Homo sapiens: one gene and its partners. The protein of the gene in region 1 interacts with the protein of each later gene in a biochemical or structural test. Each region holds a gene or a part of one and is shown in the gene's direction. Other genes may lie near its edges. The genes, in order: POLDIP3, RPS6KB1 and RPS6KA1.

Region 1 (3,648 bases):
AAAAATTAGCTGGGCATGATGGCGCGTGCCTGTAATCCCAGCTGCTCGGGAGGCTGAGGCAGGAGAATTGTTTGAACCCCGAGGTGGAGGTTGCAGTGAGCCAAGATTGCGCCACTGCACTCCAGCCTGGGTGACAGGGCGAGACTCCGTCTCAAAAAAAAAAAAAAAAAAGAGGTCGTGAAGCTGAATGATGCCAGTTTGTTTCTTTACAAAGGGACCAGGCCTTTCCAGTAATTAGACTGCTCAAGTCTGCTATCAAGGGAACTATCAGCTTGCTCAGTGAGTCTCTATCCCTATTTGATACCCTAATTGAATAAATGCCATATTTATACTCATGCGTCTTGTACCCTGTGAGATGGGTACTGTTGATTACCCTCGTTGATGGATGAGGGACAGGCATGGAGAGGTGAAATAAGCCTGTTCAACATCACCCAGCTGATGAGAAGCAGTGGATCTAGGAATGGAGCCCGAGCAGTCTCGCTCTCAGGGCCCTGTGTGGAGTCACTGTGCTGTCCCAGCTCTGGAGACGCAGAATTCCACATGAGGAATGTGGAATTCAGCATGGGGATGACGCTGCTTCACCCAGACTTGGAGGAGCGTGGTGAATTGCCCGTGCCCATGCTCTGATGTGCCTCTCTGGCCGCTGCGTTCCTCCTTTCTCCCTGCCCTGGGTCAGTGCCTGTAAACACTGCCCTAAATCAGCAGGGCCCCCGTCACTTCTGCTTTATGCACCTTTTTCCTCAGACACATTAATACAGGGGAGTTTTGTTTCCAAGGGACCACATCCAGATGGAGGGGCTGTTTTTGGTGATCTGCACTGCCAAATGCCCGAGTGTCCCTGACAGTCGGAGCTGATGAGGCCAAGGCTGTGTGTGGTTCCTCTGGATGGCCAGAAGAGGAACCAAAACACTGAATTCTGGGCCTTCTTAAGAGTGGTGATCAGCACATTGTGATAGAAGCATATCTGGGAATGAACTTGGCCTCAAGCTTTTGGCCTTTTAATTTTTTTTTTTGTAAGCAAAAGCAGCTTTATTAAGAAAACAAAGGAATAAAAGAATGGCTACTCCACAGGCAGAGCAGCTCTTTTACATTTTTTATAGAGATGAGGTCTCACTGTGTTGCCCAGGTTGGTCTTGAACTCCTGGCCTCAAGCAGTCCTCTCACCTCAGCCTCCCAAAGTGCTGGGATGGCAGATGTGATCCACTATGCCTGGCCAAGCTTTTGGCCTTCTGACCAGCCTCATATTGTAGAATTTTTAGAAAGTCTAAGTGGTGTGGGTGAGCCTGTGGCTCCTGGGTAATTTTCCAGGTCAGGGCTGTATGGAAGCTTCCTGCCAAGAGCTTCTAGCACTGTGGGGAGTGGCTTCTGTGAGTGCGCGTTCAGGCTGTGTGTTTTTCTCTCCCCCTGCCCCTTCCCTATGGGATGTCACTGGCAGCCGGCAGCCTTTTTGGCTCCAGACCTCTAATAGAATTAGAGAGCTGGGAGGCATCGAGGGTTCATGCTCTCAGCAAGTTGTCAACCTCTTGGGGCTTCTTCAGAACATTGCAGGTCTGGCTTCTCAGATTCTTTTCTGTCTCTTCGTTTAGGCTGGGCTAAGCAGTTCCAAGCTTTCCATGTCCAAGGCCCTCCCTCTCACCAAAGTGGTTCAGAATGATGCATACACAGCTCCTGCTCTCCCTTCCTCTATTCGAACAAAAGCCTTGACCAACATGTCCCGGACACTGGTGAACAAGGAAGAACCCCCCAAAGAGCTGCCAGCTGCTGAGGTGAGGTGATGGTGGTGACTGCAGCAGTTGGGGTCAGGAGGGCTGTATGCTTATATGTACCTCATTGTGTTCCCCACAACGCCTTTGTGAGGTGGGCATTGCCACCCCCATTCTACAGATGAGCAAACCAAGACCTAGGGACTCTTACCCTCAAAGACCTTGCAGGCTAGTGGGGACGGCAGACCTGCTGAGAGATTGCGGTATCTGGTGATATGTTAGACTCTCTCAGAAGAAAGCTATTAGGAGGGCTGAGGACAGATTATCTCATTCCAGTTGGGAAGTCTGGGAAAAAGGGCTCTTTTAGCTGAGTGGGTCTGGAAGCATGAGTAGCCTTCCAGGTAGAGGCTCAGGGCCTGAGAGGCTTGCGTATTTGGGAGATGGGAGAGGGTCCATGCTTTTAGCATAGAGTGATGGGGGGTGTAGTGGACACTGAAGTTCAGGGGGCCCATTTGTGGTAACTCTCCATGGAGCTTTCCTCTGGGCCTTCCTAGTCACGTGCCTGGAGGAATTTCTGTTGTGGGAATGCTTATCAGCCATCTGGCTTCTGGTAATGCTCTTGTCTGTGTGGCAGCCTGTTCTCAGCCCATTGGAAGGCACCAAGATGACTGTGAATAATCTGCACCCTCGAGTCACTGAGGAGGACATTGTTGTAAGTACTGTGACCTACCAAACATTTAAATCTCAAACTGCCTCTGTGGCAAAGGTCTCTTAAGACCCACCCTCAGGTTTGATGACTGCTAGGACTCACCAGACTCAGCATATAGTCACGCTCAGGGCTGAGACTAATGACAGCAAAAGGATGCAGAGCAAATGGCTCATGGGGTGAAGTCGGGGGGAAACGAGGCACAAGCCTCCAGAGGCCCCTCCCAGCAGAGTCGCACAGGATGCTGGGTGCAACTCGCAGCAAGTTGTGACAATACATGTGACACCAGGGAAGCTCATTAAAGACTCAGTACCCAAAGGTTTTACTGGGGGCTGGTCACTTCGGCATTCTCTGTGTAGCATGTACTAAAATTCCAGACTCCCAGAGGGAAAGCAGCTGTTGAGCAGAAACCATGTTGTTTGCACAGTCCAGGCACAGTGAACTGTGGGGTGGCAGGAGCCCTCCTGAGATCCGAGTTCTCAGATGCCAGCCAAGGGCCACCCCTGGAATCGGACCTTTCAAACAATAGCAGTCAGCCCAGCTGCTTCACTCTTCTGCACAGCTTCTAGCCAAGGCCAGGTGCCTGGCCTGAATCTCAGAGTCAGGGGATATCTATGCTATAATGGGTCCTAAATGGGATCCTTTAGTCCCACTGGGCAGTATCCAATAGTTGTGTTTTCCTGTGTCCTTTGGAGGTATTACAAGATGATTCCAAAGTGAAAGAAGTGAGATGGATTGGTGGTATCCACCTTCCTGGTCCATCCCGTCCCACCCATGGCAGTCATGGGCAAAACCTGTCAAATGTCTGTGAGCGGGGTTCTGGATGCAGCTAGGACTTCTTTTCAACATCATTTTCATTCAGGCACCCAAAAGAGCCATTAGTTTAGAAATCCAGGCATCCTTTGAACTGTCAGATCACAAAATGAATACGTTTGGAGAATCCAGCCTCTCCCTGCAGTTAAGTCCCAGACTAACAGACTGCACTGGTCACTACATTTGTTAAATCTTTTTGTTTTGTTTTGTTTTGTTTTTGAGATGGAGTCTCACTCTGTCACCCAAGCTAGAGTGTAATGGTGTGATCTCGGTTCACTGCAACCTCTGCCTCCCAGGCTCTAGCAATTCTCCTGCCTCAGCCTCCCGAGTAGCTGGGATTAGAGGCGCCTGCCACTACGCCTGGCTAATTTTTGTATTTTCAGTAGAGGCAGGGTTTCACCATGTTGGCCAGGCTGGTCTCGAACT
Region 2 (3,648 bases), on another chromosome or scaffold:
ATTAGCCTCTTAATCGAACATAATGGTACACTAGTTACAATTGGAAACAAATATGAGATTACTTTCATTATTTATACCATATACCATACTCTTTATCAGTTATGTTGGTTCTCTATGACAGTGGCTTTGGAGCAGGGCAGGGGAGAAAACTGGATAGGAAGGTGCTTTATATCTTCATTAGTTGAACTGATAGAATTTCCAGACTGGGTTTATTTTATTTTATTTTTTTTTCTTTTCTGAGACAGAGTCTTGCTCTATTTGCCCAGGCTGGAGTGCAATGGCGCTATCTCGGCTCACTGCAGCCTCCACTTCCCGGGTTCAAGCGATTCTCCTGCCTCAGCCTCCCGAGTAGCTGGGATTACAGGCACCCGCCACCAGGCCCGGCTAATTTTTGTATTTTTAGTAGAGACGGGGTTTCTCCATGTTGGTCAGGCTGGTCCGGAACTTCCAAACTTGGGTGATCTGCCTGCCTTGGCCTCTCAAAATACAGGTGTGAGCCACCGCACCCAGCCAGGTTTATTCTTTTTTGAAAGTACAGTACTCTGTTAAAATTCCTGTGTAAACTGGGACTTTTCTTTTCACTTTCTTGTGTTTCAAGAACAGTAGGTGTTCCAGGGCTTTTGTCCTGCTGGGTACAAGCAAGTAGGATTTTGAGAAGGTGTGAGGAGGAGGTCAGAAAAATTGGTGGAAATAGGAAAGAGAAAGAAATATGGCCCCGATTTTGGGGAGAGAAAGTCTGGGGAAAGAGCAAAGGCAATTAAAGAGGATTTTGAGGAAGAGACTTCTGTAAAATATGTCTTAGCAACACTTTTTGGAGTTGAAAATATTTCTTTTTAGTGTGTTATTTTTTCTAAGAGGTGCCTCAAGATGGATAATGGAAGATTTGGAGTACGATTGGGTTGACAATCCAAGGAGATTCGGTGACATCCAGATTACCCTGAAATAAAAAAAAAAAAAAATTCTGGAAAATGAGAGAAGTTTAGATTCTTAGAAAATCTTCTGATAGTTTCTATTTGTGAATTTATAGACTTTAATTTATTACACAAAGTTTTTAAACATTGGTGCATATCAGTTTTCCTCATTTTATAGTAAGGAAACTGAGGCATAGGCCATATGATAGCCAAAGATCACATAGTGGTAGTGTCTTCTGACTTAATTCAGCAGGCTTCATTGCACAGGTTCTTCATTGCATTTACTAGTTGTGTTTATAATGTTCCTCTTTGTGGTATGTCAAAAGTGAATTCAGATTCCTTTGGCCATACTCACTCTGTGACCTGGAGTAAATTCCTTAATCTCTAATGTTTTCTATAACATGAGGGTTACATTAAATAAGTACGTAAAGTACAGTACTCTCAAAATATCCTGGCGTATTAAGCAATTAGCTAGTTCACAGAAATTCAGCTTGTCTTGTCATTGCTAAGGAACCAATCATTCAGGTTTAACCTCGTATACCTAGAGACTTAATAATTGCAGTTAAACTCGAGGTGCTGTATTTTTACAACTGTAGTATCATAGTGTGTATTTTTTTTTAAAACTAATTGATCCCGTTTAGAGAGATGTGCCTTTCAAGGTACGTTACAGAGTGACTATGCGTTAGTAAATATAGGTATTTCCATAGTTTATTTAATTAGAGATTAAAAGATGAGACTAAATGATACATTTATGGACAAAGTTGAATATCTGCCACCTAACTTAAAAAAGATCCTGTTTAAGGCCGGGCACAGTGGCTCATGCCTGTAATCCCAGCACTTTGGGAGGCCGAGGCAGGTGGATCACGATGTCAGGAGCAGGAGACCAGCCTGGCCAATATGGTGAAACCCAGTTTCTACTAAAAATACAAAAATTAGCCAGGCATGGTGGTGCACACCTCTAGTCCCAGCTATTCAGGAGGCTGAGGCAGGAGAATCTCTTGAACCTGGGAGGTGGAGGTTGCAGTGAGCCAAGATCATACCACTGCACTCCAGCCTGGGCGACACAGTGAGATTCCGTCTCAAAAAAAAAAAAAAAAGATTCTGTTTAAATATCTCAGAGGAATATAATCAAAGCCTATTGGTAAGAGGGGAGTTTTTGGGCGGAGGGTGTCTTTTTTGTTTGTTTTTTTGTTTCACTGTTGATGATATCATTTGGGGCAGTAAATTGAAACTAAGGAAAAGTTTTCCTTCAGAGAATTTAGATTGCAAAAATGTTGGAATCTTCTCTGCTCTCTATAGCATTAAGAGTAGTAGAAAACTGTAATGCAATTTAAAAAATTCTCACTTTGTACTCTAATTCAAAATTTGAAATAATCACGCAGGCTTACTGTACAAGTTTCAGATTGGGACATCAGATTTTTATTGAGTAAAAGGTTTAAAATTTTTGAAAACCAAAGTGCTATATAGATAGTATATACTCAAATATTCATGATTATGAAAAATTATAGAAAAAATATCAATACTTATCTTGCTTTGTAATATATACTTACTATAAAGCAGCAACTTTTTTTTATTTTTTATTTTTTTGAGACGGAGTTTTGCTCTTGTGGCCCAGGCTGGAGTGCAGTGGTGCGATCTCGGCTCACTGCAACCTCTGCCTCCTGGGTTCAAGCTATTCTCCTGCCTCAGCCTCCCGAGTAGCTGGGATTACAGGTGCCGACTACCACACCCAGCTAATTTTTTGTATTTTTTTGGTAGAGACGGGGTTTCACCATGTTGGCCAGGCTGGTCTCAAACTCTTGACTTCAGGCGATACACCTGCCTCGGCCTCCCAAAGTGCTGGGATTACAGGCATGAGCCACCGTGCCCGGCCAGCAGCAACTATTTTTAAATAGCCCAAGAGTTTAGGCAAAGTTCTACCCTTTCTTCCATTTCCTCTAAGTTACTGAATCTTGTCAATCCTAATGAACACAGCAGACATTGGATAGGCCATAAAGCTTAAGGCAGCAGAAAAAAATTAGGAGTAAAGAGTTTCCTGGCCAGGCGGGGTGGCTCATGCCTGTAATCCCAGCACTTTGGGAGGCCAAGGTGGGCAGATCACCTGAGGTCAGGGGTTCGAGACCAGCCTGGCCAACATGGTGAAAACCCCGTCTCTATTAAAAATACAAAAATTAGCCGGGCCTGGTGTCAGGCACCTGTAATCCCAGCTACTCGGGAGGCTGAGGCAGGAGAATCACTTGAACCTGGGAGGCAGAGGTTGCAGTGAGCCAAGATCGCGCCATTGTTCTCCAGCCTGGGGGACAAGAGCAAGACTTCGTCTCAGAAAAAAAAAAAAAAGGAGTAAAGAGTTTCCTGTGAAAGAGAGTTGTCAGTATGTATTACATAATGTTATTTGACACTTCTTGTGTGAGCCTTCTAGAGGTAACACTGAGTAGCAGGAAAGATTTGTGCCTCAAATGCTTCTGTCCTAGACAGTAACGGTAGAAGTTATTAGCACAATATGCAGGTGCCAGCATTATAGGTCTGGCCAGCTTAGGAAATGAAACATAGCTACAGGGCGTATCTTGTGAGGTGGCTTCAAAATCATGGTCCAGTCTTAACTACTCTGTAGTCTTTAATTTAGAATTAAGTAAAACTAACATTAAAGAAAAAACAATTATGTAATACCAGTTTTATCACATCTGGAAGAAGTTAGTCTTTTGTCATAAAAGTGAAGCCATCCTAGGCGATTACGTAG
Region 3 (3,648 bases), on another chromosome or scaffold:
CTATTGGGCCTTTAGGTTCCATCTGCTGTGGTCTGGTGGGAATGGACTTGGGCAGGGGAGCCTCCTGCTGCCTGGATGGGGCCCACCATGCCCACCAGCTCTGTCCCTCCATCAGGATGAGGGCGTCCTCAAGGAGATCTCCATCACGCACCACGTCAAGGCTGGCTCTGAGAAGGCTGATCCATCCCATTTCGAGCTCCTCAAGGTTCTGGGCCAGGGATCCTTTGGCAAAGTGAGTCATGAGCCCATAGCTGTGAAGGCAACACTCGTCATGTTAGAGGTGGGGGTCAAGGGTCACCTAGGGGCCCAAAGGATCAGAGGTCACCTTGGTACCCAGGGAGAGCAAAAAGGTCAGCTTGGGGCTCAGAGAAGATAGAGGTCAGCCTGGACTCAGACCTCTCCCATCTTCTGCCCTGCTTCCTGCTCTGCCTTCTCAGGTCTTCCTGGTGCGGAAAGTCACCCGGCCTGACAGTGGGCACCTGTATGCTATGAAGGTGCTGAAGAAGGCAACGCTGAAAGGTGAGTGGGGACACCTCCCTGTGCAGAACCCAGGCTTGGCTGAGGGAGGCAGCCCAGACTTCAAGGGCCTTGGGTCTGGCAAGGGAGACAGCTCTGTCTTCAGGAGCACCTAGTTCAAAGGTGGAGAAACAGGCCTATTTCTCAGCTATCCCTCGCCAGCCAATCCTCCTCCCCCTAAGCCAAGTGCTAGTGACTGGCTGTGAAGGTCTGGAAGGTGGTAATAGGGTAAATGCAATGTGTTTGTCAGGGGGCGGGGCCCTCAACTACCAAGCTGGTCAAGCAGAGGCATTCTGACTGTTGATGCTAGAAGAGTCTGGGGGAGACCTCTGTGGCCCCTAACTCAGGGGCCTGAGAGAAGGGCGTGAGTGAAGAGGCAGGGAGCCCAGGGAGGCAGCTGGGCTAGGCAAGAGAGGGTGAGTCCAGGCAGGGCCACAGAGCTGGATGGCAGAGAGGTTCAGAAGGGAGCCCCGAGCCAAGGTTAGAGTTCTGGGGACTTACAAAGGGTGTGAAGATGGTTGGTAGTGGGCTTTGGGTTGGATACTGACCACTTGGCCTGGGAACCAGTGTGACCACTGACCCGGCAGAGTCATAGCCAAGTCTCTCTTTAAATAAGTCAAGGCCGGGCGCGGTGGCTCACACCTGTAATCCCAGCACTTTGGGAGGCTGAGGTGGGCGGGTCATTTGAGGTCAGGAGTTCAAGACCTGACCAACATGTTGAAACCCCGTCTCTACTAAAAATACAAAGAAATGAGCTGGGTGTGGTGGTGTGCACCTCTGATCCCAGTCAGAGCCAAATCCTAGCTGGGGAGGTAGTGGGGGCAGTAGGAGGCGTCAGCCTTAAGGACGTTATGGGTGGCTTTGGTATCCTAAGGCCAGCCTGGTGGGTGTGGAAGTCATCCCCCAGGAGGTATGGTGGCAGCTTCAGAGGGAGGAGAAAGATGAAAAGCCTGGGTCCCTGCTGTGAAGGGCTCACAGGCTGGGCAGGAGAGGCTAAGCATACCCGACAGTGTGGTGCAGCCGGTGCTGTGACTGGTGTGCGTGGATATCCGACGCGCTGGGGAGCTGGGAGTGGTGGTGTAGTCTTGTAGAGGGTGGGCCCAGAGGCCAAGGGGACACCTAAGGAGCGGGAAGCCTTGGAGGATGAGTGGATTTCTCTAGACCAAAAATGTTTGAGGAAGGGGACCCTGGGAAGGAGAAACTGTTTGCCTGAACTAAAGTGTAGAGGTGGTTTGAAAATGTAAGGTAAGCTGGGTGCTGTGGCTCATACCTGTAATCCTAGCACTTTGGAAAGCTGAGGCGAGTGGATCACTTGAGGTCAAGAGTTCGAGACCAGCCTGGCCAACATGGGAAAACCCCATCTCTACTAAAATACAAAAATTATCTGGGTATGCTGGTATGCACACCTATAGTCCCAGCTACTCAGGAGGTTGAGGCACAAGAATTGCTTGAACCCAGGAGGTGGAGATTGCAGTGAGCCGAGATCGCGCCACCATACTCCAGCCTGGGCGATGAGAGCGAAACTCCATCTCAGAAAAAAAAAAAAAGAAAAAAGAAAATGTAAGGTGACCAAAATAGTTAACTCCGGTGTGGTCCTTGTCATGTCTAATGAGGAAAACACAAAAATTAAAACAGAAGAAGGGGACCAGCTCCTGCAGCCCTGTGTGCTGACATAGAAGGTGTGTTGGAAGGCAGCTGCAGCTTCTACTTGTAGCAAGGGCCAAGGATTGTGTCCTGAACAAGACTCCGGAAAGACATGCAGGAGGAGTACATTGGCCAGATCTCCTAAGATAAGCAGCTGTGAGCATCAATTCTGGAATGGCAGTGACGAATGAATAGAATTCATACTAGATGGATGGACTAGTGAAGGCTTTGGGACTATGAGGCTGGAGAGGAAACTGCCAATCCAGTACATGGACCAAAAAAGCCTTTAGTTTTGCATTGTGTGTATTGCTCAGACATTTTGTCTGGTCTTAGTAAGCACTCCCTAGCCTTCCACCTCTCCTTTTAATAAAAGTCAAGGCTGGGTGCGGTGGCTCATGCCTGTAATCCCAGCACTTTGGGAGGCCAAGGTGGGTGGATCATTTGAGGTCAGGAGCTCAAGACCAGCCTGGCCAACATGGTGAAACCCTGTCTCTACTAAAAATACAAAAAAAATGAGCCAGGTTTGGTGTGTCTGTAATCCCAGCTACTCAGGAGGCTGAGGCACTAGAATCGCTTGAACCTGGGAGGCAAAGGTTGCAGTGAGCCAAGATCACACCACTGCACTCCAGCTTGGGTGACAGAGTGAGACCCTGTCCCATTAAAAAAAAGTCAAAGGACACATGAGAGGTCTCAGTCAAGGGGTAATCAATATTGTGATAAACTTAGTTGAAACACACTGCCCAAAATGAACCTAGGCAGCCATGTCCAAAAGCCTGTTCTTTTTTTTTTTTTTTTTTTTTTCTTTCCCGAGATGGAGTCTCACTCTATCGCTCAGACTGGAGGGCAGTGGTGTGATCTCGGCTCACTGCAACCTCCGCTCCGCAGGTTCAGGCAATTCTCCTGCCTCAGCCTCCTGAGTAGCTGGGATTACAGGCACATGCCACCACGCCTGGCTAATTTTTGTATATATATTTTTTTCTTTTTTGAGACGGAGTTTCACTCTCGTTGCCCAGACTGGAGTGCAATGGTGCAATCTCGGCTCATCACAACCTCTGCCTCCCGGGTTCAAGTGATTCTCCTGCCTCGGCCTCACGAGTAACTGGGATTACAGGCCCACGCCACCACGCCTAGCTAATTTTGTATTTTTAGTAGAGACAGGGTTTCTCCATGTTGGTCAGGCTGGTCTCAAACTCCTGACTTCAGGTGATCCGCCTTCCTCAGCCTCCCAAAGTGCTAGTATTACAGGCATGAGCCACCACGCCTGGCCAATTTTTTTTTTTTTTTTTTTTTGAGGCAGAGTCTCACTCTGTCACCAGGCTGGAGTGCAGTGGCGTGATCTCGGCTCACTGCAACCTCCGCCTCCTGGGTTCAAGCGATTCCCCTGCCTCAGCCTCCTGAGTAGCTGGGATTACAGGCACGTGCCACCAGGCTGGCTAATTTTTTGTATTTTTTACTAGAGACAGGGTTTCACCATGTTGGCCAGGATGG

The links.
Region 2: of the proteins of POLDIP3 (region 1) and RPS6KB1, one has a biochemical effect on the other in vitro, tested with the Homo sapiens proteins (one study listed by BioGRID).
Region 3: the proteins of POLDIP3 (region 1) and RPS6KA1 form a complex in vitro, tested with the Homo sapiens proteins (one study listed by BioGRID).

What each region holds. Positions count from the first base shown.
Region 1 is NC_000022.11:42,594,304-42,597,951, reverse strand, and holds part of POLDIP3 (polymerase delta-interacting protein 3), read left to right. Parts: intron 1-1,586; coding exon 1,587-1,766; intron 1,767-2,337; coding exon 2,338-2,415; intron 2,416-3,648. UniProt on the Homo sapiens protein: Is involved in regulation of translation. Is preferentially associated with CBC-bound spliced mRNA-protein complexes during the pioneer round of mRNA translation. Contributes to enhanced translational efficiency of spliced over nonspliced mRNAs.
Region 2 is NC_000017.11:59,895,973-59,899,620, forward strand, and holds part of RPS6KB1 (ribosomal protein S6 kinase beta-1), read left to right. Parts: intron 1-3,648. UniProt on the Homo sapiens protein: Serine/threonine-protein kinase that acts downstream of mTOR signaling in response to growth factors and nutrients to promote cell proliferation, cell growth and cell cycle progression.
Region 3 is NC_000001.11:26,546,752-26,550,399, forward strand, and holds part of RPS6KA1 (ribosomal protein S6 kinase alpha-1), read left to right. Parts: intron 1-115; coding exon 116-232; intron 233-437; coding exon 438-519; intron 520-3,648. UniProt on the Homo sapiens protein: Serine/threonine-protein kinase that acts downstream of ERK (MAPK1/ERK2 and MAPK3/ERK1) signaling and mediates mitogenic and stress-induced activation of the transcription factors CREB1, ETV1/ER81 and NR4A1/NUR77, regulates translation through RPS6 and EIF4B phosphorylation, and mediates cellular proliferation, survival, and differentiation by modulating mTOR signaling and repressing pro-apoptotic function of BAD and DAPK1.